Linked DNA regions of Homo sapiens: all the other regions are linked to region 1. The links come from fine-mapping of genetic effects on gene expression. A gene starts in region 1. Each other region holds a variant in brackets. All regions are shown on one strand. Distances are from middle to middle. Region 1 holds the start of NEDD4 (NEDD4 E3 ubiquitin protein ligase). Region 2 overlaps NEDD4 (NEDD4 E3 ubiquitin protein ligase). Region 3 overlaps NEDD4 (NEDD4 E3 ubiquitin protein ligase). Region 4 overlaps NEDD4 (NEDD4 E3 ubiquitin protein ligase). Region 5 overlaps NEDD4 (NEDD4 E3 ubiquitin protein ligase). Region 6 has its middle 35 kb from the start of NEDD4. Region 7 overlaps NEDD4 (NEDD4 E3 ubiquitin protein ligase).

The links. PIP is the estimated chance that this variant, and not a neighbour inherited with it, causes the effect.
Region 2: its variant is the best candidate, but not a certain one, in a credible set for the expression of NEDD4 in thyroid (GTEx, PIP 0.83).
Region 3: its variant is the best candidate, but not a certain one, in a credible set for the expression of NEDD4 in whole blood (INTERVAL, PIP 0.55).
Region 4: its variant is the best candidate, but not a certain one, in a credible set for the expression of NEDD4 in whole blood (INTERVAL, PIP 0.52).
Region 5: its variant is the best candidate, but not a certain one, in a credible set for the expression of NEDD4 in monocytes (TOPMed, PIP 0.59).
Region 6: its variant is the best candidate, but not a certain one, in a credible set for the expression of NEDD4 in whole blood (INTERVAL, PIP 0.88).
Region 7: its variant is the best candidate, but not a certain one, in a credible set for the expression of NEDD4 in whole blood (INTERVAL, PIP 0.66).

The regions. Positions count from the first base shown.
Region 1 is chr15:55,991,883-55,995,951 of GRCh38, reverse strand. It overlaps NEDD4 (NEDD4 E3 ubiquitin protein ligase), which reads left to right and starts at 2,340. Exons shown (of 29, transcript NM_006154.4): 1 at 2,340-2,441. The coding sequence starts at 2,397. RefSeq lists silencers at 1,134-1,331, 2,118-2,217, 2,458-2,807 and an enhancer at 2,310-3,092.
Region 2 is chr15:55,823,734-55,827,802 of GRCh38, reverse strand. It overlaps NEDD4 (NEDD4 E3 ubiquitin protein ligase), which reads left to right. Exons shown (of 29, transcript NM_006154.4): 29 at 1-881. Among named protein-coding and RNA genes, the nearest start is that of PRTG, 83 kb to the right of the region's middle. The variant G/T (reference allele first, on the strand shown) is at 2,245.
Region 3 is chr15:55,943,067-55,947,135 of GRCh38, reverse strand. The region is part of intron 4 of NEDD4 (NEDD4 E3 ubiquitin protein ligase); the gene reads left to right. Among named protein-coding and RNA genes, the nearest start is that of NEDD4, 49 kb to the left of the region's middle. The variant G/A (reference allele first, on the strand shown) is at 2,013.
Region 4 is chr15:55,956,246-55,960,314 of GRCh38, reverse strand. The region is part of intron 2 of NEDD4 (NEDD4 E3 ubiquitin protein ligase); the gene reads left to right. Among named protein-coding and RNA genes, the nearest start is that of NEDD4, 35 kb to the left of the region's middle. RefSeq lists a silencer at 2,268-2,445. The variant GACA/A (reference allele first, on the strand shown) is at 2,179.
Region 5 is chr15:55,933,397-55,937,465 of GRCh38, reverse strand. The region is part of intron 4 of NEDD4 (NEDD4 E3 ubiquitin protein ligase); the gene reads left to right. Among named protein-coding and RNA genes, the nearest start is that of NEDD4, 58 kb to the left of the region's middle. The variant A/G (reference allele first, on the strand shown) is at 1,891.
Region 6 is chr15:56,026,460-56,030,528 of GRCh38, reverse strand. It overlaps the pseudogene RN7SL568P. Among named protein-coding and RNA genes, the nearest start is that of NEDD4, 35 kb to the right of the region's middle. The variant A/G (reference allele first, on the strand shown) is at 2,492.
Region 7 is chr15:55,923,431-55,927,499 of GRCh38, reverse strand. NEDD4 (NEDD4 E3 ubiquitin protein ligase) reads left to right here. Exons shown (of 29, transcript NM_006154.4): 5 at 2,801-2,854. Among named protein-coding and RNA genes, the nearest start is that of NEDD4, 68 kb to the left of the region's middle. The variant C/T (reference allele first, on the strand shown) is at 2,158.

The DNA.
Region 1 (4,069 bases):
CCTCACATGGTTATACACACACTCAAACCAAATCAACATGAACCTAATTGAAGGCAGCCTAGGTAGACAAAACGCCTTCATGAGAGTTCTGCGCAGTTGAGTGATATGTAGAGGAGTTCTTCATTCTAAACAGCTTTCTCAGTGGTGGTTGGTTATTGGACCACCAGCTGATATCACCATCCCGATTTGAGCTTCCTTTAATTTCAGGTGCCCCTCCTAGCTGTTGACCGGGATACAATAATTACTCTAGTTCATCTTGTATTGGTAGCTGTTTAATTCTTCATGATTTCATATTCGGAAAGACAGAATAAGAAATCATGAGTCAAATCAGTGGTCTTTAGAAGTATCATCACTAATACCTATTGGATACATCAAATGGCCAATTTGCTTTACTTTATAATCCCTTGGGGATTTACTGATTTTTTTTTTTTTAATTACCAGTTTTAGGCTGTGTATACTTCTCATATATTCATTAAATTTTAGTAGCAGTAACGGAAGCTGTTTTTACACGTTTGTAATTGTGCCCTGAAATGACACTGAATTAACTTAAATTCAAATGACTTAACTAACTTAAAATTAAACATAAAAATGTGTATCATGAGAGATGAGGGAAATATTCGCAAAATAGAAGGGCACACAATATTTTCAGATTATTTTATTCTTAACCCACAAATCCCACAGATATGTGACAACTTAAAAAACAAATTAATGCTCTCATGGCTTTTTCGATTTAGGTAAGCCAACAATTCCTGACCATTCTGTAATTTTGTAGTCATGTTTGATTAAGTGCCATCTCTTTCCCCCTAATACGGATAAAATCTGAATTGTGTATTAACAGAATTTTGATACATATTATATGAATGAAATGGATCCTACCAATCATAAAGTACGACAATTGAGGTGGAGTCTTGTTCTGTCGCCCAGGCTGGAGTGCAACGGCGCAATCTTGGCTCACTGTAACCTCCTCCTCCCAAGCTCAAGCGATTCCCTTGCCTCAGCCACCCAAGCAGCTGGGACTCCAGGCGCCCGCCACCACGCCCAGCTAATTTTTGTGTTTTTAGTAGAGACAGGGTTTTACTATGTTGGCCAGGTTGGGCTCGAACTCCTGACCTAAGGTGATTCACCGCCTTAGGTTTCCCAAAGTGCTGGGATTACAGGCGTGAGCCACCGCGCCCGGCCAAGTACGAGAAAAATCTTACGTAACAAACCAGTAATATGGGCTATAGCCTTGTTCCCACGTAGCATCTTAAACTGTTAAAAATAAATCAGAGTTATTCTGAAATCATTGAGGAAAATAAAAATTAGATTTTGAGATTGCAGAATTCTGCAAATTTCTGCAAATGTATAAAAACAACATGATATAAATTGTGGCCTGGGTGTTCATAATTCTCCCCAGACTCTTTTATGGATGCCTTATTTGGTGGAGGTCTTCCTGTAATTATGGAATTATAAAGCCCATCAGACAGGAATATTAAAAAGCATGATTATTCCATAACCTTATTCCACAGGAGGAGTTATTCCACAGGAGGAGTTATTCTACAGGAGGTCCTAGTTCACTTTATTTTTCCCTCTTCGTCACTGCCTTCTGGTGGTGCTGCGGATCAACGCCCAGCTAAAGCAGGTTTAGAGGGTCAGCCTGGAGATTGGATTGTTACTGGTGGGATTTAAAGATGGACAGACCATAGGACAACAAATAGCTTAGGAACTGGCACTGTTTACAAATCCTAGGGAGAGAATTTCAGATCCCGAGTCCAAGACTGCTGCGATCCCTCCAGGCCTCCCCATTTGCTGCCACGCTCAGGCTTTCCCTGGCGGTCCCCAGGTCCAGCTTCTTATGGGAATGACACCCTTAACCGACAAGAAAGCGCTATGATTTTCCGTTTGGGATTTAAGCGGGGATTAAGCTCACGGATTCCCAGGCGTCTAGTCAGAGGCCGAACTCTGGGTCGGATCTCAGCGAGACTTGTTGCTGAGGAACACTGCAGCTTGGCTTCCCGGCGCTTCCCGGCGCTCCCTGGCTCCCCGGCGGGCCCGTCAACCACCCACCTCCCGGGAAGGGACCGAGGGCGCGCCCCGCCACGCGCGCTCCCCACGCCATGGTCCCCGCCGCGCGCGCTCATCCCACCCGAGCCCCGCCGCACGCCCTCCCCACTCCCCGAGCCCCGCCACGCGCGCCCCCGCCCAGCCCCAGGAGCGCGCGCCGCCGGCCTTTTCCCGCCGCGCTGCCGGGTGCCGCTAGTGCCCGCTCGCCGCGGGAGGCGCTGCTGTCGCTGAGGGAGCGCCTCCTCCTCTTCCTCCAACTCTTCCCCGCCTCCTCCCGCTTCTCCTCCTCCTCCTCCACAGTTGCCTGCCCTGGGCGGGGGCGAGCGCGTCCGGTTTGCTGGAAGCGTTCGGAAATGGCAACTTGCGCGGTGGAGGTGTTCGGGCTCCTGGAGGACGAGGTGCGGGGACCGCGGGGCTGCGGGGCGGGCTTCCCTTCGGGTTATTCAGCAGCCGGACCCGGGGAGGTAGCGGCGGCGGCCACGACCGGAGGCTCTGCTGTCAGCCCCTCCTCCCTCGGCGCGAGCCTGGGGAGCGCGCGAGGCGCCGCGGGGACTGTGGGGGCGGCTCGGCGCGCGGGCGCTGGGGGCTCGCTGGAGGGAGCAAGCTTGTCGGGTCCACACCCGCCCCTTCCCGGAGCGGCCGCCGCCTTACTTGTCAGTTTCCTTCAGGAAGTGTTGAGGAGGGGGCTAGGCGGTCGGCGGGGGACCCACATCACCGCGCCAGCCCCTTCCTGCCACCCCCGCCGGGTGTGCGGAGCTCCCAGGCGTTGGGAGACGGTCGCAGCATCCCCGCTGTTGATTTGCTTGCTCTGGCGGAGGCCGGGCCGACTTAACTTTACGGACTTCGGTCTGGAGAGTTCCAAGTGAATTGTCATTCGCTGGTTTGTTTTTTTCTTCTTTATCTGAAATCCTTTTTAATCCCCTAACTAGAGACAGGGATGGGAGAGCAGGAACATAAATTTTCCTCCTCCTCTTTAGCAACAAGTGTCTAGTGTGAGAAGTTCATGCTTTATTTCACCGGTCGTCGTTGATGTTAAAAAGTGAAGCCAAAAAAGTATAAATACTTTATAAAGAAGTTACCACATCTGTTCCCTTTGAAAACTAGATTAAGCTCTGGGATTTGAAGAAGGCAAAGCTGTTTCTTTTCAGCTAAATAACTAATGCTGATTATGCCTATGCTTATTAAAAATATTGTACGACCATTTGGAAAGGTTGTTCCGTCGTAAATGATATGTGGCTTCTGTGTGTTCTTGGAGATTGTCTCAAAAATGCAAATGGGTGGGAGATGAAAAGGCTGCATGTAGTCTAACAGTGACTGGTTCCGAGTGAAAAAAATCAAGTTTTTTGCTTTCTTGTTGGCTGACTAAGCTGCCACATGTACCTTTTATCAAGATGAGACCCAGTTAACTGAAAATCCATCAACCTAATTTATACTGCTTGCTTAAGTATTGTAATATTTAAGTTGTATAGTTCCTTCTCTTAGTACCTTGGTGTCGTCAAACATTTTACACTTCTCTTGAGAGTTCTTTGTTTATAAAGGGTGGGCAATTTGTTAATGCAGTTATTTCAGGATATTTTGAGAATGCTTACGTGATGCGATTAGAATTTAATTTCCTAGCTATTGCTGCCAGAAGAGAAATAAAGTGATGATGGACAAATGGTGGCGGCTCATAGTCCCTCAGAAACAATAGTCAATGTGTTACAGCTAAAGATATCATTCTAGCTAATGGCACCTTTATTCTGTAGACGAGATCAGAAGATAATACAGCACTTCACCTGTGGTCGCTTTCTTATCAGTCAGATTTCCCTGCTTGCTACGTAGACTGCCCAGTGCAGTTGACTTCAAGGTGGTGTCCAACCCAATCAGGCTGACCTTGGACTTTCTTTCCCTGCTATATTCACAGGTAGGCCCTGCTAATTGCAGATTTCTCATCTCACCGCCTTCCAGCAGAGCCAGTTGATCTTAAAGAAAATAGTGCCAAAGGTATCATTCACCATCTGTTTTCTCCCTCTTGGTACATGATCAG
Region 2 (4,069 bases), 170 kb after region 1:
GAATCATTTAAAAGTAAAGTGACTTCTAAGAGACAAGGAAGTAGGAACATTTCTGATATTAAATATATAAATAATATGGATACACATGTGTATATCTGTATATGGATCTTACCATCATAATTCATTTTCTTCATATCAGCAAAGTAATAGTAATGTGGGCCAATGCATTTTGGAAATGTCCTCATTATGTAGAATGGAATGTGAAAATTATTTTTGTTAAAACAGGATTTTGCCACAATTATTTAAATATTATGTTTGTGAACTATCTAAGCATGAGAAAATACAAAGCTTTCTTTGTATCTGGCTGATACTCATTTGGATGATTCTGTGACTCATAGAACATGATGTTAAATGAGACCAGACTCAACTGCCACCAGTCCCCAGCTGCAGACCTTCATCCCCTTCATCTCCCACTAGGGGCTCGTGGTCTGGAAGAAACATCTATCAAGCAACACAGCCCCTTATCCCAGATAGAAAAGTGTCTCAAATGCATTCTACTGCGGGACAGTCAGTAGGATCATTTTCATAAAGCAAGGACATCATATGTTTCTAGAAATTACAAGCATATAACTTTAGCCTACAATCTCTTATTAAAAATTTTTAACAAAATTGTATTACAAATGCATTTCATCAGAACTCAAATTTAAATGGTGTTTGTTTTGGGTTTTTATTTATAATGCTGAAGTTATTCCATATAAGTATCAAGTTAAACACAATTCATTTTGATTATAAACTATTTGACTTTTTAAAATCTTCTGACACAGTAAATATATATATCAAGATTGATGTATCAAAATTTATTGCACACTTTAAAGTGTAAAATCATTTTTTAAAATCTTGAATCCACAAATAAAGTTCTATTCTGATTTTAAAAAACAAAACAAAACTGTGGTTCATTATAAAATAGGAGTGTTTCCAAGTCAGTATGCTGGGTGATGTCTTCTGGTCTAGTTCCTCACAGCAGCACGTTAAATTTTCAGTGCAATCCTAAACTTATTACCTGATGAACTAACATGATTATAAACTCTCAACCACAGATAATTAATTTCCACTTTACAAAAAGGTCGTATTGCATAAGTCTGGTTGTTAGTGAAATAGCCAGAAGATAAAAATAATAGCTAAAAATGGACTGGATTTCAGGCACCTTGCTGCTCATCAAAGAAGCCATTCTTGTAGCCAACCACTATTTACAACATCATTTCTATGAGAAAAAGAGTTCGGAGTGTTAATTCAGAACGAAGTGTCTTTTCCTCCTTCCTCTCAGGCATGAGAATTAGTTTCCCAGTTAGAAGGGAATCCACTCCCACCCACTCAAGCCAGCCTGGGAAGGTGCTGTTCCAGCCCCCTGTTTCTGCCATAATCCAGGCCATAGCTTTTAATTTTGGGGACCTAGGCCATGGCCCTCTGCTTCCACGTTTCCTGTTCTAGCCAACTCGGGCAGCAGCTAGCCCACAGCATGCCCCACCTGTACAAGAAGTCCTTGCTTTGCTGTCCATCACGGCAGACATTTATTTTATAAATGATATTAAACTAAGGTATTAGAATGTCAGTACCTCATTATGAAGAAAGAGACTTAGTAGATTTTTGTCTTTTTCCTTGAAAGTTAAAGCCTATCACACTAGCCTCCTCTTTCTGTTCCGCTCATCTCTTCCCCTGCAATGCATCCTATGCAGTCCCTCCATCACAATCAGTGTTTCCTTTTTAGCACACAGATTTGATCAGGTTACTGTACCGCCAAAAAACCTGAGAGCTCCCCAGAGCCAAAAGCATGAAGCACAAACCCGTTAGCATGGAGGTTCGCATGGAATGCAGTCCATCCTCAGCCTAAGGTCTCAATTCCACCTTCCATCATACCTCACTCAGGTGCCCTTGGTTCCCCTCCAAATCAGAGTCCTTCCAGCCCCTAATCACTGCAGACTCCGGTGCCACCTGAATGCTTTCACTTCTCATGTCTACTTGGTAAGTCACTCCACTTTCTGGACACAGTGGAACGGTGCTGTGGCCTCAGCAGTTGGTATATACTAGTGCGGATGACACTGCATTACAATTCTTTGTTTACATAATTCTGTCCTACAGACTTCTGGGCAGTTTGAGGACAAAGACAATTATGTATCCATCTTTTTCATATGTTCATTTCCCAATGCAAATATTTGACGAATTTGAGCTTAAAAGTACTGTTTGTGTATAGAATCCATTTAGGAGCATGGTGTGCCTGGAACTGCAATAATGTGCAGGAGCTCTGTA[G/T]TTAGGTGGACATTGGGGACTACGTAAATATTCAAGCAGAGAGGGAGCTTGATTGAGATCCTGCTGAGTGCTGGATTCTGCAGTAAACACTTTATGTGGATCTCATTTAATCTTCATAAAAACTCAGTGAGACAGGTTTTATAGGCTCAAGGACAAGTAATACACCTAAGGCCACACAGCTTGTAAACTCAGTGGATTTATGAACCACAACAAAGAAAAGCTATGGAATCCAACAAATTACCAAGATGTATCCGTTTTCTTGGGCTGCACAACAAATTGCCATAAACTTAGCAGCTAAAAACAATACCCATTTATTATCTCAGATTTCTGTAGGTCACAAGTGTACATGGTCTTAGCTTAGGGTTCTCTGCTCAGGGTCTCACAAAGCCAAAATCATGGTGTCTGGGCTCTTGCCTGCATCCAAGATCTTTCCGATTATTGGCAGAATCCAGTTCCCAGTAGCTGCAGGTCTGAAGTCCTTGTTTTCTTGCTGGATGGCAGCTGGGGGGCACTCTTAACTTTCAGATGTCACCCACATTCCTCATGGATTGGCCCTCTCTCCCTCTTCAAGCCAACAATGCCTCTCATGCTTCTAATCTCTGATTTCCCATTCAGCTGCCCTTTTCTGCCACCAGACGGAGAAAGTTCTCTGTGTTCCAAGATTTATTTGAATAGATCAGGCCCACCTGAATAGTCTTCCTTTTTGGAAATTGACTGTACTGGCCAGGTGCAGTGACTCACGCCTGTAATCCCAATACTTTGGGAGGCCAAAGCAGGCAGATCACCTGAGGTCAGGAGTTTGAGACCAGCCTGACCAACATGGCGAAACCCTGTCTCTACTAAAAATACAAAAATTAGCCAGGCGTGGTGGCGCGTGCCTGTAATCCCAGCTACTTGGGAGGCTGAGGCAGGAGAATCACTTGAACCCGGGAGGCGGAAGTTGCAATGAGCCAAGATCGTGCCACTGCACTCCAGCCTGGGTGACCAGAGCGAAACTCCAACTCAAAAAAAAAAAAAAACACGAAAAAACCATCTCAGAGAAAAAAAGAAAATTGTACCATAGGCGCAGAACACAGTCATGGGACCAAGATCTTATCACGTTCATAAACAGCATAGATTAGGAGGATGAGATATTTCCTAGATCATTACTAGAAAATCCTGCCTTCCACACAACATAAAGGCTAAGGATAGAAAAGTTAAAGATTATGGAGGTTCACCTTGAAAAACACTTATGTATATCTAATTTTATAATGTGCGTTCATTTTTCCACTCTTTGTCAATGAAAGGCCAGCTAAATAAACTAATGCTAACAACAGCCGGTAAGATTCCACTTCAGCAGCTATAAATTCACAAGTCACTACTCTCAGATGAGCCATCAATTCATATTTTTCTCAATACCAGAAGGTTGCATTGGCCTGAAATTATATTCAACTCATCCTTACAATCTTGCTTCTTATACAAGCAGAAATGAAAAGCCATAATTGCTCCTTTTATTGGGAAGGTTGGTGTCTTTCCAGTGAAATCATGGTCAGGATTATAAGGTGGGTCCAAATCAGACTACAGCCATGATGGGAAGAAAGCAGTTCACAGCCCAGAGCTGCTGAACATTCTCTGCAGATGTGTTTAGAACTGCTTTAAATCTCTGGAGAGATGTGCAAGGGAGGGCCTCCAAACGCCCAAGTAAATGAAAGTTCCTGTGCAATCACATGACCCTGGAACAAAGTTTTTTCTCCTGGTGAAATTAACCAAAGATTAAAGCCATAACTATAGGCTCATGAGTTATACTCTATTCATTATTTAGGTCCTGACTTAAGTTCTCTTCTGA
Region 3 (4,069 bases), 49 kb after region 1:
CTGCTAGCTTTTGAATGTGTTTGCTCTTGCTTCTCTAGTTCTTTCAATTGTGATGTTAGGGTGTCAATTTTAGATCTTTCCTGCTTTCTCTTGTGGGCATTTAGTGCTATAAATTTCCCTCTACACACTGCTTTAAATGTGTCCCAGAGATTCTGGTATGTTGTGTCTTTGTTCTCATTGGTTTCAAAGAACATCTTTGTTTCTGCCTTCATTTCGTTATGTACCCAGTAGTCATTCAGGAGCAGGTTGTTCAGTTTCTATGTAGTTGAGCAGTTTTGAGTGAGTTTCTTAATCCTGAGTTCTAGTTTGATTGCACTGTGGTCTGAGAGACAGTTTGTTATAATTTCTGTTCTTTTACATTTGCTGAGGAGTGCTTTACTTCCAACTATGTGGTCAATTTTGGAATAAGTGTGGTGTGGTGCTGAGAAGGATGTATATTCTGTTGATTTGGGGTGGAGAGTTCTGTAGATGTCTGTTTGGTCCACTTGGTGCAGAGCTGAGTTCAATTCCTGGATATCCTTGTTAACTTTCTGTCTCATTGATCTGTCTAATGTTGACAGTGGGGTGTTAAAGTCTCCCGTTATTATTGTGTGGGAGTCTAAGTCTCTTTGTAGGTCTCTAAGGACTTGCTTTATGAATCTGGGTGCTTCTGTATTGGGTGCATATATATTTAGGATAGTTAGCTCTTCTTGTTGAATTGATCCCTTTACCATTATGTAATGGCTTTCTTTGTCTCTTTTGGTCTTTGTTGGTTGAAAGTCTGTTTTATCAGAGACTAGGATTGTAACCCCTGCTTTTTTTGTTTTCCATTTGCTTGATAGATCTTCCTCCATCCCTTTATTCTCATGAGCCTATGTGTGTCTCTGCACATGAGGTGGGTCTCCTGAATACAGCACACTGATGGGTCTTGACTCTTTATCTAATTCGCCAGTCTGTGTCTTTTAATGGGGGCATTTAGCCCATTTACATTTAAGGTTAATATTGTTATGTGTGAATTTGATCCTGTAATTATGATGTTCACTGGTTATTTTGCTCGTTAATTGATGGAGTTTCTTCATAGCATCGATGATCTTTATAATTTGGCATGGTTTTGCAGTGGCTGGTACTGGTTGTTCCCTTCCATGTTTAGTGCTTCCTTCATGAGCTCTTGTAAGGCAGGCCTGGTGGTGACAAAATCTCTCAGCTTGTCTATAAAGGGTTTTATTTCTCCTTTTCTTATGAAGCTTAGTTTGGCTGGATATGAAATTCTGCATTCAAAATTATTTTCTTTAAGAATGTTGAATATTGGCCCCCACTGTCTTCTGGCTTGTAAGGTTTCTGCTGAGAGATTTGCTGTTAGTCTAATGGGTTTCTCTTAGTGGGTAACCTCACCTTTCTCTGTGGCCGCCCTTAACATTTTTTCCTTCATTTCAACGTTGGTGAATCTGACAATTATGTGTCTTGGGGTTGCTCTTCTCGAGGAATATCTTTGTGGTGTTATCTGTATTTCCTGAATTTGAATGTTGTCATGCCTTGCTAGGTTGGGGAAGTTCTCCTTGATATTATCCTGTAGAGTGTTTTCCACCTTGGTTCCATTCTCCCTGTCACTTTCAGCTACACCAAACATAGAGTTGGTCTTTTCACATAGTCCCATATTTCTTGGAGGCTTTCTTTGCTTCTTTTTATTCTTTTTTCTCTAAACTTGTATTCTCACTTTATTTCATTAATTTCATCTTCAATCAGTGATAGCCTTTCTTCCACTTGATTGAATCAGCTACTGAAGCTTGTGCATGTATCACAAAGTTCTTGTGCCATGGTTTTCAGCTCCATCAGGTCATTTAAGGTCTTCTCTACACTATTTATTCTAGTTAGCCATTGGGCTAACCTTTTTTCAAGGTTTTTAGGTTCCTTGCAATGGGTTAGAACATGCTTCTTTAGCTTGGAGAAGTTTGTTTTTACCGACCTTCTGAAGCCTACTTCTGTCAACTCATCAAAGTCATTCTCCTTCCAGCTTTGTTCTGTTGCTGGCGAGG[G/A]GCTGCGATCCTTTGGAGGAGAAGATGCGCTCTGGTTTTTAGAATTTTCAGCTTTTCTGCTCTGGTTTCTCCCCATCTTGGTGGTTTTATCTACCTTTCATCTTTGACGTTCGTGACATACAGATGGGGTTTTGGTGTGTATGTCCTTTTTGTTGATGTTGATGCTATTCCTTTGTGTTTGTTAGTTTTCCGTCTAACACTCAGTTCCCTCAGCTGCACATCTGTTGGATTTTGCTGGAGGTCCACTCCAGACCCTGTTTGCTTGGGTATCACCAGTGGAGGCTGCAGAACAGCAAATATTGCAAAACAGCAAATATTGCTGCCTCATCCTTCCTCTGGAAGCTTTGTCCCAGAGGGGCACCTGCCTGTATGAGGTGTCTGTTGGCCCCTACTGGGAAGTGTCTCCCAGTTAGGCTACACGGGGGTCAGGGACCCACTTGAGGTGGCAGTCTCTTGTTATCAGAGCTCAAATCCCATGCTGGGAGAACCACTGCTCTCTTCAGAGCTGTCAGATAGGGACATTTAAGTCTGTAGAAGTTTCTGCTGCATTTTGTTCAGCTATGCCCTGCTCACAGAGGTTGAGTCTATATAGGCAGTAGGCCTTGATGAGCTGAGGTGGGCTCTGCCTAGTTTCAGCTTCCCGGCTGCTTTGTTTACCTACTCAAGCCTCAGCAATGGTGGACACCCCTTACCCCACCAGTCTGCAGACTGGCAGGTCGATCTCAGACTGCTGCGCTAGCAGTGAGCAAGGCTCTGTGGGCATGGTACCCGCCAATCCAGGCATGGGAGAGAATCTCCTGGTCTGCCAGTTGATAAGACCATGGGAAAAGCACAGTATTTGGCCAGAAGTGTCCTGTTTTTCCAGGTACAGTTTATCACAGCTTCTTTTGGCTAGGAAAGGGAAATCCCCTGACCCCTTGCACTTCCGAGGTGAGGCAATGCCCCATCCTGCTTCGGCTTGCCCTCTGTGGGCTGCACCCACTGTCCAGCCAGTCCAAATGAGATGAACCAGGCACCTCAGGTGGAAATGTAGAAATCACCCGTCTTCTGCGTCAATCATACCGGGAGCTGCAGACAGGAGCTGTTCCTATTTGGCCATCTTCCAATCATTACATCTTAAAGCTCCAAAATAATCTCCTTTGACTCTGTGTCTCACATCCAGGCCACACTGATGCAAGGGGTGGGTTCCGAAAGGCCTTGGGTGTCTCCACCCCTGTGTCTCTGCAAGGTACAATCCCTTCAGCTGCTTTCACAGGCTAGTGTTGAGTGCCTAAGGGTTTTGCAGGCAAACAGTGCAAGCGGTTAGTCAATCTCCCATTCTGGGGTCTGGACGATAGTGGCCTACTTCTCACAGCTCCACTAGGCAGTGTCCCAGTGGGAACCCTGTGTGGGGACTCCAGTCCCACATTTCCCATCCACACTGCCCTAATAGAAGTTCTCCATGAGGGCTCTGCCCCTGCAATATCCAGACTTCTGTGTGGATATCGACACATTTCCATACATCCTCTGAAATCTAGGAAGAGCTCCTAAGCCTCAGCTCTTGCCCTGTGCCCACCTGCAGGCTTAAAACCATGTGAAAGCCACCAAGACTTACGGTTTGAACCTTCTAGAGCAGCGGCCTGAGACATATCTGGGCCCTTTTACCCACAGCTGGAGCTGGAGTGGCTGGGACTCAGAGAGCAGTGTCCCAAGGTTGTGTAGGGCAGCAGGGCCCTGGGCCTGGTCTATGAAATCATTCTTCCCTTCTAGTCCTCTGGGGCTGTGATAGGAGGAGCTGCCACAAAGATCTCTAAAATGCATTCAAGGCATCTTCCCCATTGTCTTGGCTATGAACATTCAGCTCCAGCAGCTGGCTTGAATTCCTCCCCACAAAATGGGGCTTTCTTTTCTACCACATGATCAGGCTGCACATATTCCCAACTTTTATGCTCTGCTTTCCTTTTAAATATAAGTTCCAGTTTCAGATCATTTCTGTGAATGCATATAAGCATATGGTTAGAAGCAGCCAGGCCACTTCTTGAACACTTTGCTGCTTAGAAATTTCTTCTGCCAGATAC
Region 4 (4,069 bases), 36 kb after region 1:
ACCCAGATTGAGGGTGTGTCTGCCTCTCCCAGTCCACTGATTCAAATGTTAATCTCCTTTGGCAACACCCTCACAGACACACCTAGGAACAATACTTTGCATCCTTCAGTCTAATGAAGTTGACACTCAATATTACCCATCACAGAGAGGTGGTTACTGTGGCTTATTTCTGCAGTCCTTTGGGGGTATGGGGTCAGTGGAGCAAGTCAAGTAGGTTGAATCTGGTTGTTTCTTAGGGAGATGGTTACCAGGAGGCAGTTGTGTAAGGTAGTTATCTGGATTGACCACATTGAGGAGCTGAGAGGAGGTAGAGAACTGGAAACTGTGCTAAGGGTGACTAAGACCTGCTTCTGGTATAAAAATGTCCAACTTAACATTCATTATGGATGCTGAGGCAACATAAAATTATAGGAATTCACTTCAGCTGTCATTAAGGTATTGGTAGGGCTGTGGTCTTAGCTGAGGCTTGCTTAGGGAAGGATTCACTTCCAAGCTAATGTGGTTGCTGGTGGCATTCAGTTCCTTGCATGCTGCCAGTCTGAGCGTTTCCATTTCTTACTAGCTGTCAGCTGGAGGCCGTCTCAGCTTCTTGCCATTCAGCAGCTCACAAGCTGCCAGTTTGCTTCTTCAAAGCTAGCAAGAGTCTCCTAGCAAGATGGATTACAATCTTATGTAATGTAATCACATACTTTTTGTCACATTTGCCATAATCTGTTGGTTAGAATATATAGATCTGTCCCATGCTTAAGAGGAGAGGAACACAAAGAACATGAATATTAGGAGGTGGGGATAATAGGAGCTGCCCTAGTGTCTGGATGCCACAATATTCCGGGCCTTGAAACAATAAACCACATTCTTTTGAAATGCACATGGTACGTTAATCAAGATAGACCATGTGTGGGTCCATAGGACAAGTTTCAGAGGTTTTCAAAAGATTGAAATCATATAGAGGATGTTCTTTGAGAACAGTGGAATTCAATTGGAAACCAATAATATTAAGATCTAGAAAAACTGCAGATATTTGGAATTTAATTAGTATACTTCTAAATAATCTATATGTCAAAGAAGAAAACATTTTGAACTGAATGAAAATGAAAATACAGCAATATCACAATTGTGGAATGCAGCTAAAGTTATATTCAGAGGGAAGTTTATGTCTTTAAAATGCTTAACTTAGAAAAGGAGCAAGATATAAATGAATGTTTTGAGTTCTGACCTTAATAAATTAGAAAAAGAAGAGCGAATGAATTCTAAAATAAGTAGAGGGAAGAAATAATAAAGACAAGGGCCAAAATCAGTGAAAGAGAAAGTGGACAATGGTAGAAAAAAAATTATTGTAATCAAAAGCTTGTTATTTGAAGACATCAATTAAAGTTTTAAACCTCTAGCTAGAATGATCAAGAGTTAGAGAGAAGGCACTAATTACTGGTAATGAGAATGAAAACTGGGGCATTGCTATAGACCCTGTGGAAATGAAAAAGATAAAAAGAAAACATTTTGTACAATTTTGTATCAGTAAAGAAGTACACACAATTTAGTGAAGTAGATAATATTCTTGAAAGACACAGATTTCAGAACTAGCCACAGAACAAATACAAAACTTTAATAGATGTTTATTATTGAAAGAAATTGAATTTGTTGTTAAAAGAAATTGAATTTGTTGTTAATTAAATTGAATTTGTCCTTCCCACAAAGAAAACTCCAGGCCCACATGATATCACTGGATGCAGCTATCAGACATTTAGGGAAAAAAAAATAAAAATTCTACACAAACACGTTCAGAAAATGGAGGGCATTTCCCAACTCATTTTATTAGGCTAATATTATCTTGATCCCCAAACCAGACACAGACATCACAAGAAAACTTAAAACCAATATCTGTCAACATAGATGCAAAAATGAAATTAAACATTATGTAGCAATATATCACCACTTAGGATTTTTCCTACAAATGCAAGGTTTGTTCAACATTAAAAAAATTAATTAATGCAATTCACTGTATTAATACAGTAAAGTAGAAAAAACACATGGTCATTTCACTTGGCATGGAATGTGCCTTTGACAAAATGTAACACCCAGTCATGATAAAACCTCTCAGCAAACTAACATAAAATACAAAGGTGGCTTAACATCTGAAAATTAACTGATGTAATACACTGTATTAATAGAATAAAAGAA[GACA/A]GTCATCTTTTTTTTATTATACGTTAAGTTCTAGGGTACATGTGCACAATGTGCAGGTTTGTTACACATGTATACATATGCCATGTTGGTGTGCTGCACCCATCAACTCATCGTTTACATTAGGTATATCTCCTAATGCTATCCCTCACCCCTTCCCCCACTCCACGACAGGCCCTGGTGTGTGATGTTCCCCACCCTGTGTCCAGGTGTTATTGTTCAGTTCCCACCTATGAGTGAGAACATGCGGTGTTTGGTTTTCTGTCCGTGTGATAGTTTGCTTAGAATGATGGTTTCCAGCTTCACCCATGTCCCTGCAAAGGACATGAACTCATCCTTTTTTATGGCTGCATAGTATTCCATGGTATATATGTGCCACATTTTCTTAATCCAGTCTATCATTGATGGACATTTGGGTTGGTTCCAAGTCTTTGCTATTGTGAATAGTGCCGTAATAAACATACATGTGCATGTGTCTTTATAGCAGCATGATTTATAATCCTTTGGGTATATACCCAGTAATGGGATCGCTGGGTCAAATGGTATTTCTAGTTCTAGATCCTTGAGGAATCGCCACACTGAGAAGACAGTCATCTTAATAAAAGCAGAAAACACAACTGACAAAATTCAACACCCATTCATAATAGACACTCTCTGCAAACTAGGAATAGATGGAAATGTCCTAAACCTCATCAGGGGTATCTATGAAAAAACCCAGTAGCTAACCACCTACTTAATGGTGGCAGTTTGAAGCCCCTCTACTTAACTCAGGAATAAGGCAAAGTTGTCTGCTTTCATGTTCTATCCAACATTGTACTATATATTTTAGCCATGTAGTATGGCAAAGAAAAAAAAATCACACAGTCAAAAAGGAAGAAGTAAAACTGTCTTTATTTGCAGACAACATGGTTTGTACGTAGAAAGCCCCAAGGAATCTACAGAAAAAACTACTGGAAGAACTAATAAATGAATTTAACACCACCACAAAATGCAAAGTCAGTGTTTGTATAACCCAAAATCAGTTATATTTCTGTATCCTATCATTGGGCCATTGGAAAATACAATTTAAAAACGTGTTTACAATTGTATAAAAGTTAAATATTTAGAAATAAATACAACAAAAGATTTGTAATAAATGGACACTGAAAACTATAAAACAGTGCTGAGAGAAGTCGAAGACAACATAAATCAATGGATACATATGCTGTTTTCATTAGAAGACTCAATAGTGTTAGGGTGGCATTTTTCTCCAAATTGATTAGATTTGGCACAATCCCAATAAAAATCTCAGCAAGTTTTTTCAGAGAAATTGATAAGCTGATTTCAATATTTGTATGGAAAGTCAAGGCACATAGAATAGCCAAAACAATTTCAAAAAAGAACAAAATTGGAAGACTTACATTACCCCATTTCAAGACTTGCTACACAGTTATAATAAGACAGAGTGGCAGTGGCATGAGAATAGATATATTGTTCAGTGGAATGGAGAGTGTAAAAATACATGCGCATGTGTGTGTGAGAGAGCGAGAGAGAGAATATATACACATATATATGATCAGCTCCTGTTTAACAAAAAATGCTGAGGTAATTCAAGGGAAAGGGTAGTCTTTCAGTACACAGTACTAGAACAACTGGTCTGTATAGAATGAAATGAATCTTGGTCCTTACCACACATCATACAGAAAATTAGTATGAGCTAAAATGATAAAACTTCTATAGGAACACATAGGAAAAAAATCTTTGCTCTATTGGGTTACACAAAGTTTACGTGAACAGTACCAAAAAGGATGAGCCATAAAAGAAAAATGTTGAAAGGAACTTCAACACAATTAAAACTTTTCTTCTTTAAGAAACAAGGTTACGGAAAATGCAAGCCATAGATTGGGAAAAA
Region 5 (4,069 bases), 58 kb after region 1:
ATTTGTGTGGATCAATGCTAATTCATTATGCTTAGAAAAAAACTGAAAACATACGGTGAAATATCTTCTGTGCAAAGGACATTATTATGTGTGGTCCTCTATTTTCCTCTTTGTCATTTATATCATCATTTTTATATAGCCCAGAATGTTTTGAACTGAATGTATTCGCCATAAAAATGTCTGTTGAGATAACATATTACAGCAAAAACTTGGTTCTTGGGCATTCGGCCAAATGGAAATTGTGGTCAGAAGTTGAAGGCAGTTTTATATCTTTGAGAAAACATGAAGTTCAAAAAAAGTTTTTGTGAAAAACTGTTATTGACAACACAAACGGGAAACTCCAAGTTGAAGTTAGTGCTCAATAGCAAATTATGGCCAGGCACGGTGGCTCATGCCTGTTTTCCCAGTGCTTTGGGAGGCCGAGGAGGGTGGATTGCCTGAGGTCAGGAGTTCAAGACCAGCCCGGCCAATATGGTGAAACCTCATCTCTGCTAAAAATACAAAAATCAGCTGGGCATCATGGCGCATGCCTGTAATCCCAACTACTCAAGAGGGTGAGGCAGGAGAATCACTTGAACCTGGGAGGCAGAGGTTGCAGTGAGCCGAGTTCACACCATTGTGCTCCAGCCTGGGTGACAAGAGTGAAACTCTGTCTCAAAAAAAAAAAAAAGAAAAGAAATAGCAAATTATAATTAAAATCTACACTTTACATGCTTAGAGGGAAAAAAGTGCAACACATTAGGTGCAATGCACATGTTATTTACTCTGTGCATAAGAATTGTGCTTGGGCATCTGAAAAAGCCTCACCCCATTTCCTACATTCTGCAGGTGCTCTGTGTATATTTTTAGCATTCATACTCAATATATTAGATTTATGTAATGTATATATATGCAAGTGTATGTTTATATTATGTTATAGAAGTAATATAACTTATGCAAGATAGTTTTTTTAATAAAGAGAAATGAAAATCAGCCATAATTTCATCTCGATAAACCACCACTGATAATATGCTTTTCTGGGATTTCCTATGTGTTTTTTTTTCTTTTGTATTTTTATGGATAGGGGGAAAAAACTTACCTACATACGCACACAAATTTGGCGTGATTTTTTTCTATACCTATTTCTCAGGCACTTTGCTATGATTGTTAATGAGATGGCCACAGTACCTACCCTCAATGAAACTTACTGTCTAGTATGGACCAGTGTGAACAGGTAACTCATAATTATTACCAGTGTGCTGAGCTTTATGGAAGGGAAAACAATGATACCGGAGAGTAAATACAGGGTTGGGGGATCACTTAGTCTAGGAGGTTTAGGAGGGACCCCTCTGACAAAGTGTATCATTTAGGATGCTTTTAGCTTCAAGTTATAGACTTGAAGTAGCAATGAAAACTGCCTTCACAATAAGCACACTGATTAGCTTTAATCATAAGAAGCATAGAAGAAGGTTGGTCATTGCAGCAGGTGAAAGAAGTCATGCTTGACCCAGCTTCTCTGGGATTCTCTTGGCTTTCTCTCTGTGGTCACAGATACTTACAGCAGTTCCAAAGACATGATGATGTCCAGAGGCTGAAAAGGGAGAGCTTTTTGCTGAGTATCTTTTTTTTTTTTTTTTTTTTGAAACAGAGTCTCACTCTGTCGCCAGGCTGGAGTGTAGTGGCACGATCTCAACTCACTGCAACCTCTGCCTCCCGGATTCAAATGAGTCTCCTGCCGCAGCCTCCCGAGTAGCTGGGACTACAGGCGCATGCCACCACGCTTGGCTAATTTTTTGTAGTTTTAGTAGAGACAGGGTTTCACTGTGTTAGCCAGGATGGTCTCGATCTCCTGACCTCATGATCCGTCTGCCTCAGCCTCCCAAAGTGCTAGGATTACAGGCATGAGCCACC[A/G]CGCCCAGCCTTTGCTGAGTATCCCTTTAAAAAAGTAAAAAACCTTTTTCCAGAAGACTTTGGATCTTTTTCTCTTGGGCCAGAATTGTGTAATGTGCATATTTCCTACCCCATTGTTGGTGAGGAAAATGGTGTTACCCTAAGGCTTAGAGGAATCAAAATTCAGCCCCTGGGAGAGAGGAGTTGCTGTCTATCCCTGACAGACATAGTCACCCAATATTTGAATAAAATTATAATTCTTTTAGCTAGGAAGAAGGCAGGACACCCCATCAGTGGAGCAGTAAGTAAATTATGATACATTCATACAACGAAATCCTAATCTACTGTTTAAAAAGAGGCAGGTTTATATGTTGTTATAGATAATTCATTTCAGATTATACTAAATGAAGCAAGAAAAATGCAGAACAAGGCCAGACATGGTGGCTCATGCCTGTAATCCCACTACTTTGGGAGGCCGAGGAGGGTGGATCACCTGAGGCCAGGAGTTCAAAACCAGTCTGGCCAACATGGTGAAACCCCATCTCTACTAAAAATGCAAAATTAGCCAGGCATGGTGGTGGGTGCCTCTAATTACAGCTACTTGGGAGGCTGAGGCAGGAGAATCACTTGAGTCTGGGAGGCAGAGGTTGCAGTGAGCCGATATTGTGCCACTGCACTCCAGCCTGGGCAATAGAGTGAGACTCCATTTCAAAAAAAAAAAAAAAAAAAAAAAAAAGCAGAACATTGTATATAGGAATATATTATTTGTGTAAAACCAGAAAAATTTTTAATAAAATAAAATTTTAATAATAATAAAATTTCTTATATGCTGGTATTTTTAGAAAATAATTCTGGAAGGACCTAAGAAACTGTTTACTGTATTTGCTCTGGGGGTGGGACAAAGGTAAGACAGAGATTTATAATTTACTATATATCCTTTTTTACTGTTTGGGTTTTTTCTCCGTGGCCGTATATCTACAGTTTATTTTTATATTTATTGATTAAACTATTTGCATAAAGAAATAAAGTGGAAAGACATAAAACATTTAAATTAAAATGCCGGAATACTTTCTATTCATATATTGTTTTATGCTTATGAAAATACTTGTCTAATTCACTTAACTTTTTACACTTTTACAGTGTTATTAAAATATATGCACAGAAAACTTGCGCACCAATGTTCGTAGCAGCATTATTCATAATAGTCAAAAATTAGAAACAGCACAAATGTCCATCAACTGATAACAAAATGAGATATACACATATAATGAAATATCATTCATCAATAAAAAGGAATGAAGTATTGATACAAGTTACAACTTGGATGAACCTTGAAATCATTATACTAAGTGAAAGAAGCTGTATTAGCCCATTCTCACACTGCTCATAAGATATGCCTGAGACTGGGTAATTTTTTTAAATTATCATTATTATTATTATTTTGAGACAGAGTTTCACTCTTGTTGCCCAGGCTGGAGTGCAGTGGCGCAATTTCGGCTCACTGCAACCTCCACCTCCTGGGTTCAAGCTGTTCTCCTGTCTCAGCCTCCCAAGTAGCTGGGATTACAGGCGTGTGCCACCACACCCAGCTAATTTTGTATTTTTAGTAGAGACGAGGTTTCACCCTGTTGGCCAGAATGGTCTCGAACTCCTGACCTCAGGTGACCTGCCTGCCTCGGCCTACCAAAGTGCTGGGATTACAGGTGTGAACCACTGCCTCCAGCCAAGACTGTGTAATTTATAAAGGAAAAAGTTTTAATTGACTCACAGTTTAGCATGGCTGAGAAGGCCTCAGAAAACTTACAATCATGATAGAAGGGGAAGCAAACACATCCCTCTTCACATGGCAGCAGCAAGTAGAAGTGTCAAGAAAGAGGTGGAAAACCCCTTATAAAGCCATCAGATTTTTTTTTTTATACTTTAAGTTCTAGGGTACACGTACACAACGTGCAGGTTTGTTACATATGTATACATGTGCCATGTTGGTGTGCTGCACCCATTAACTCGTCATTTGCATTAGGTACATCTCCTAATGCTATCCCTCCCCCTTCCCCCTCCCCCCACCCCACGACAGGCCCCAGTGTGTGATGTTCCCCTTCCCGTGTCCAAGTGTTCTCATTATTCAATTCCCACCTGTGAGTGAGAACATGCGGTGTTTGGTTTTCTGTCCCTGTGATAGTTTGCTCAGAATGATGGTTTC
Region 6 (4,069 bases), 35 kb before region 1:
TCATGTGCAGACATTTGTTAAAGGGTCTTAACAGCTCAAAACATAAAAAAGTAAACCAAAAGACATTCCAATACTTACTAATTAAATAATGCAAATTAAAATCTTGCATACTTCTATACACTTTATAATTTGGCAAAAGTAAACAAAATGCTAAAACTGAACTGTTTTGAAGTGTATGGGGAGATAGGCATCGTTAACAGTAAATGATGAGACTTTTCTGGCACTGAGAAAAGCAGACACAGGAGCAACAAGGCAGCTCTGTTGCAGAATTCCAGGGAGCACCATTTATGCTGCATCCTATATGAAGGGTGCCTCCTGGAACTGGGCATCAATGTGGTCGCCCCAAAAGTCATAAAACCATTCAGAACTTTTTTATTCTCACAATCTCACTTTCAAAAACATGTTCAAGGGGAATAATTCAATACAGAACAAAAAGTTAACCACACAGAGCTACTGATTCATAATGGAGAAAATATGGAAACAATACAAGGATGAAAAAATCTGAAAAATATCAAATGAACTATTCTAGATTAATATTAGGAAGCTTGCTGGGTGCAGTGGCATGCACCTATAGTCACGGCTACTTGGAAGCTGAGGTGAATCACCTGAGCCCAGGAGTTCCAGGCTATAGGAGGCTATACCAACCGGAGGTCTACACTAAGTTTGGTATCATATGGTGACCTCCCGGGTATAGGGAAATCACCAGGTTGTCTAAGGAGGGGTGAACCAGTCAAAGTCAGAAATGAAGCAAGTCAAAACTCCTGTGCTGATCAGTAGTGGGATTACGCCTGTGAATAAATAGCCCCTGCAATCCAGCCTGAGCAACATAGCAAGACCCATTCTCAAAAAACAAAGCAAGAAACAAATAAATACATATTAGGGTGCTCTTTACATGATCAATAGATAGCTTATGCTACATGAAAAAGTATAAGTAAAATAATACTAAATTTTAATCATTAACTTAGGTAGTTTTAAGCACTGTGTCATTTTTAATTAGCTTAGGCAGTTTTAAGATTGTGTCAGTTTTCTCAAAATATTTAAGCAATGTTTTAAAAAATTAGGACATTAGATATTTAAACATTATTGTACAAAAATGAAGCATCTGCTGCTGCTCAGCTGTTTGGAATTAAATATTTGCAGGTTTGACACAATTCATATCAACATTAATTAAGAAGGCAAGATATATTGGTTTCATATTGTATTACAAATGCAGAGATAATAGAGAATATTTTGAATGCTGGCAAATGTCAGAAAGAATATTACTGAGAAAAGCAGTGAAGGGTAAGAATAGTAAAGGGGAAAAATAATTTGAGAAGGTCAAATCAGTTTTTCATGATTCTTATTGATGGAACAAAAACACTGTGTAAAAGAAGTTAGCAACACCTGTCTTTTTTTTTTTTTTTCTACAGGATTTTACTCTGTTGCCTTGGCTGGAGTACAGTGGCATGATCATAGCTCACTGCAGCCTCAAATGCTTGGGCTCAAGCAATCCTCTTGCCTCAGCCTCCCAAATAGTTATGACTACAGGCAAGTGCCACCATGTCCAGTTGTTTTTTATTTTTTATTTTGTCAATATGGTGTCTATGTTGTCCAGGCTTCATATCACATATTTTTAGGAGTGGCAAGAGAGCCCTTGACAAGATAAATAAGTATTCTATTAAAGCTTCCTCATTTATGATATGTGTGAAATGTAAATACTCCTGGGTGGTGTAACACTGTAAGTCATACTGGTTATTGTGACTAGGCTAGTAAGATTTTTTCAAGACACTAAGTGATAGACAGTAGGTATTGATAGCAAAGTGTTTACAGGCATTAAAACCAGATTGTACATATTCAGATGAAACTCTACTCAGGTGGAGAAAGTATGCAAGAATGCAGAAAGGAGAGGAAGAGTCAAGGAATGTGTCTACGTTATAATATTTCTAGGACACTCCTTGGATGTGAGTCACATCAGCAATCTACAAGGTAGAACCAACGTTACCAGCAACCAGAACATGTGAAGTGGGAGGGCCTGATATCAGGGTCCTTGTGTTATTCTGAATGAGAGTAGAAAAATGGTTACTTTTGTATTTTAAGTATATAATACATGTTAATGTATTAAAGGTAACTATCAAAGGAATAAAAATAAGATTTATAATTAGCTGGGCATGGTGGCATGTGCCTATAGTCCCAGCTACTCAGAAGGCTGAGGTGGGAGGATTACTTGGGCCTGGGAGGTCGAGGCTGCAGTGGGCTAACATCACATCACTGCACTCCAGTTTGTGCAACAGAGTGAGACTCTGTCTCAAAAACAAAAACAAAAATAAGATGTATAACTTCCTAAACAGTTGAGGGGAAATGAGGAAAAAAAAACAAAACAAAATATGTTCAATCAATAAGCCAGTCACAGTAAGAAACACAGCTCCCCAAATCCTAAATAAAATATTAATAAACTGAACCCAGCAATGAGGAGGGATGGAGGCAGATTTTGAGGCCAACAGAGCATCAAACA[A/G]TAGTCGCTTCATTCATTCATTATTTACTGAGTAACTGGGTTGTGCCAGGCACTGTTACAAATACCAGGGATATAATGGAGAAAACAGGCAAACATCTCTGCCACCTTAAAGTTACTGATAATATTCAAACTAGGGATCAACACAACAAACAAATAAGCAAAATACACAGTATGTCAGATGGCAATCACTGCTATGGAGAAAAATAAGGCAGGGAAGGAGGTAAAGGAACAGAGGAACATGACTGTAGTTTTACATAGTGTTATCAGAAATATGCAGAAAGTGATGTTTGAGCAAAGACCTGGGAATTGAGGGGTATATGTAGACATATGTGTGTAGGTTTACATATATAGATGTGTTTATATGTAGATACGTATATTCATAAAATCTACATGTAGACATGTATATATGTGGAGATCTATTAGTACATATGTAGACAAAACTATGTCAACATAGGGATATACGTCGACATCTGTGAGAAAGAACTACCCAGGCAGAGGCAGAGGAATGAACAAGTGCAAAGGCCCTGAGGTGGGAGTGTGCCTGGAGTGAGCAGGAGCAGGAAGAGCTATAGGAGATGTGGGCCCTTGAAAGGACTGTAGTGTTTACTTGGAGGAAGATGGGAATTTTTCTGAAGGTTTTAGGTAGAGAAGGGGCATAATCAGACTTACATTTTTAAAGGATCATTACAGTTGCAATTTGAGAATCAACTATAGAGAGGCAAGTGTGGAAGCAGAGAGACTGGGAAGGGATCAGTGACTCAATCCAGGCAACAGAGGATGATGACTTAAATTCAGGTAGCAGAGATGGTTAGAAGTTGTCAGATGCAGAGTATATTTTGAAGGAAGGAAGAGCCAATAGGATCTGCTAAGAGATTTAATAGAATAGATGTGTGTTATGAGAGTGATTACAAATGATTATAAGTTACCCTAGATCAAATAGGGTTTGTATCAGGAATGCAAGGAGAACCTAATAATGTTGTTTACCAAATTAGCAGATTAAAGGAGAAGCACAATATAATCCTCTTATAGATGCAGAAAAAAATACTAATTGACTCAAGTGAAATGATGTACTATGCTTATTAGCCAACTGAACAGTCTGTGATTTGGTTGATAGGAAATGAGCAAATGATGGGGGGGATATTTCTCAAGGATATTTAAAATATATTTTTTAGGCCAGGTGCGGTGGCTCACACCTATAATCCCAGCACTTTGGGAGGCCAAGGCGGGTGGCTCACGAGGTCAGGAGATCGAGACCATTCTGGCTAACCCAGTGAAACCCCATCTCTACTAAAAATACAAAAAAACATTAGCCGGGCGTGGTGGCGGGCACCTGTAGTACCAGCTACTCAGGAGGCTGAGGCAGGAGAATGGCATGAACCTGGGAGGCAGAGCTTGCAGTGAGCCGAGATCACGCCACTGCACTCCAGCCTGGGCAACAGAGCAAGACTCCATCTCAAAAAAAAAAAATTTAAATCCAATTACTAAATTTAAAGATGGCAAGTTAGGCAAAGTTTTAAAAAAAGCTTAGGCAAACTTGGGATAGAAGGAAAATTGCTTGCCTTTGTAAAACATAGTTAT
Region 7 (4,069 bases), 68 kb after region 1:
CACAGTGAGACCTTGTCTCTGCAAAAATTTTTAAAAAATTAGCCGAGCATGGTAGTGCATGCCTGTAGACCCTCAGGAGGCTGAGGTGGGAGGATTGCTTGAGCCTGGTTGCACTGAGCTGTGATCGCACCACTGCATTCCAGCCTGGGTGACAGAGTGAGACTCTATCTCAAAAAAAAAAGAATCTTGTCGTCTTTGTCTGTCTCATTTCCTTAGAGCACGCTCATTCTGCCCCCATGCCTTCTTTTCTCATGTGACCTTGCTGTGCATGTTCTCTATACCTTCTCATTTAAATTCTTCCCAACTTTCAAGTCTTAGCTCAGTTACATCTCCTCAAAAGTTCTTCTACATCTTCTTTGAAAAAAAATCATCTTACACTGTTTTTCTTTTTCTTTCTTTCTTTTTTTTTTTTTTTTTTTTTTGAGACGTAGTCTCACTCTGTTGCCCAGGCTGGACAGTGCGGCGGCACGATCTTGGTTCACTGCAACCTCTGTCCCCCAGGTTCAAGCGATTCTCCTGCCTCAGCCTCCCAACTAGCTGGGGTTACAGGTGCCTGCCGCCACACCCAGCTAACTTTTGTATTTTTAGTAGAGACAGGGTTTCACCCTGTTGGCCAGGCTGGTTTCAGACTCCTGAACTCAAGTGATCTGCCTTCCTTGACCTCCTTAAGTGCTGGGATTACAGGCGTGAGCCACCATGCCCACCCTTTTTTTGGGGGGTGTGGTGGAGGGGAGGGGACAGGTTTGCACTCTGTTATCTAGGCTGGAGTGCAGTGGCACGATCTCGGCTCACTGCAACCTCCGCCTCCCAGGTTCAAACGATTCTCGTGCCTCAGCCTCCTGAGTAGCTGGGACTATAGGCATGTGCCATGATGCCCAGCTAATTTTTGTTATTTTTGTAGAGATGGTCTCCCTATGATGCCCAGGCTGGTCTCCAACTCCTGGGCTCAAGTGATCCTCCCACCTCAGCCTAGGAGTGCTGGGATGACAGGTGTGAACCAGCACATCCGGCCGTCTTAACACTATTTTTCCCTCCCCATGTTGTCTAGCCTTATGTTTGGCATGTCTATCCTCAGTTACTCCATGGTCACAATACGGCTGCAGGAGTGCCAGCTATCCTAACAACATTTCAGACAGGAAAGATAAATGCAAGGGGCAAAAGGGACATCTCTCCCAGCTGAGTCAGCCACCTCTGAAAAGCTCTCCTGAGGAGTGACTGGCACTAGGTTGGCTTCATTGGTTGCCCGTAGGTACAAGGGATACATTTCTAGATAGACATATTCAGGGTCTCCATGTTAAACAATTCCATAGGACACCATTCACAAAAAAACAATATATAGAATAGAACAGAGTATTCAATATCTTTATCTGGGTTTGATACATATACGTATGTATCATATACATGTACAGTATGTATATGTATTTTTACATACGTATATGTATTTTACATACTGTATATGTATATGATACATACGTATATGTATTTTACATACTGTATATGTATATGATACATATGTATATGTATTTTTACATATACATACTGTATGATACAGTATGTATATGTAAAAAGTTATCAAGCTATATAGTTAAGATTAGTATACTTTTTTCTTCCTCATCCCAACATTAGTATACTTTATACTTCATTGAATATGTGTTGTACTTCAGTTTTCAAAAATTAGTGGTTTCCTCAAGAGGTGTGCAGTGTGATGAGCCTGGGAACGTGGCTGTAGGTAAAACTAGGATTATGTTCTCAGAGGGAAAAGTAGACACTGAGTTAGGTATCTAGATATCTTTGTCACAAGCATAGGACTTTTTTCTATCAATAGTTTTGACATGTACACCAATGTTTTAAGATATCACAGTGTTCAATATAATATATATAGTAGGCGATTTTTATTTTGATATCGAAACATTCCCACAAGAATGAAAGCATTGGCTTTGAAAAACAAAATATTGCTTGTAATTTTTATTCATGTGCTACAAAGCTTAAACCTTAAGTGAAAACGCAGTGTATACTTTTGACTGCTATGTACTTTATATAGTAAAAGCAACATGTAATTTTATTAAGTCAATAATAAAAGGATTCACAACACTAGTTTCTGAAAAATGTCCACTTTGGGTGGCTCTAAACTGATTAATAAAAAGCAAGTAAATAAAA[C/T]TGATCATAAGGTGTCAAAATCTAATCTGTATTTATAAGCGTTTGCAAACATTTAAGTAATCTTTTGAAATTTTCTTTTACTTCCTTTCGTTCTGTTAGAAAAATCTGAAAAATAAACAACCAGATTCACTTTGTTGTTGTTGTGAAACTACTAGAAAATGAGTGACACATGACTAGTCTGCTCTTATTTCATGTAATTTTAAAATGCATTCCAAATAATCGGAATTAGAAAATGGCAACTTCTTTTTGTTTGTTTGTTTTGTTTTGTTTTTCTTGAGATGGAGTCTCTCTATGTCGCCCAGGCTGGAGTGCAATGGCACAGTCTTGGCTCACTGCAGTCACCACCTCCCAGGTTGAAGCGATTTTCCTGCCTCAGCATCCCAAGTAGCTGGGACTACAGGCACATGCCACCATACCTGGCTCATTTTTGTATTTTTAGTAGAGACGAGGTTTCACCATGTTGGCCAGGCTCGTCTCGAACTCCTGACATCAGGCGATCCACCCACCTCGGCCTCCCAAAGTGCTGGGATTACAGGCATGAGCCACCATGCCCGACCAAATGGCAGCATCTTTAAGCATTTATTTCTGAGTATCTGTGGGTTGATGTTTACTTGTTTTTAAATAAAGATTGTGTTTTTCTTAGGTTCATCCTCAGCAGCACCGGCTTCTTTTTGAAGTGTTTGACGAAAACCGATTGGTAAGTTATATTGTGCTTATATGAAATATGAAGTAAGGGTACATTTCAGTGGAGCAGCCAGGGGAAGTGGGTAAGCAGTCTGGGATTTGAGTGATGGCTTGGGGGTGGTTATGGAGACTCTGGGCAAAATGGTGAGGGAGATAGAATTTGTTTTCTTCCTCCTGGTCCTACTCGCTCCCTTTCCATTCTCCTCCCAAGCACCTCTTCTGATTGCCAACATATTATAAGGTCTTACTCAAGACCTCTTGTGACAGGAGAGGACAGAAAACCAACCTCTTTGTCCTGCCTTCCCTCTCACTCGCCCATGACCCCTGGTTCCTACTCCATGGCTCTGGGAATCTTCCCAGGGTATCCTTCAGTTGCGCCTCCTCACTACAGTGGCCTTTCTTAGGGTTACCTGTATCCAATGGACATCCTATCCACTCTCTCATCCCCACTCTTCTACAGAGGAAATCTGTCCTTTTTACACTGATAAGGAATGAGCAAATAAAGTCTTCTCAAAGATGGCCAGCTCTTACAGAAGCAAAAAGCAAAGTTAAACCTGATGTTCTTTTTATAAAATGATTGTTCTGATTTCTGAATTCCTAAAGACTCTCTTAAAGTCCTATCCTTTTCCTAATTTTGTCTCTGAGGATCCAATCTCAAACCCTCATCTTAGCATCTTACATCTATATTTTAAACCTGTAAGATTTGAACAGGTAAGTATAGAAACAGTGTTATGTGTGCAAAGCTTATCAGTTACAAGCACCAGAAAAATTAAACAGTTTTGTTCATTTTTTAGCTAACAGAGAAACTAGCTTTTTTTTTAAAAAAAAGTCTGTTTTTAGTGTTAAACTACATTCATGTTTTTTTTGCCCTCAAGAAATGGTAATTATACTGGCAACTAAAGATATTGCCAATGAAATCTTTAATAAACATCATACTAAGCAAAAGTACATTATTGCTGCCAAAGAAGACTATCACTGACTTGCTATATATATATATATTTTTTTTTTTTTTTGAGATGGAGTCTCGCTTTGTCGCCAGGTGGGAGCACAGTGGCTCAGTCTCAACTCACTGCAACCTCCGCCTCCAGGGTTCATGCAGTTCCCCTGCCTTAGCCTCCCTAGTAGCTGGGACCACAGGCGCTCACCACCACACCTGGCTAATTTTTGTGAATTTTAGTAGAGATGGGGTTTCACCATGTTGGCCAGGATGGTCCTGATCTCCTGATCT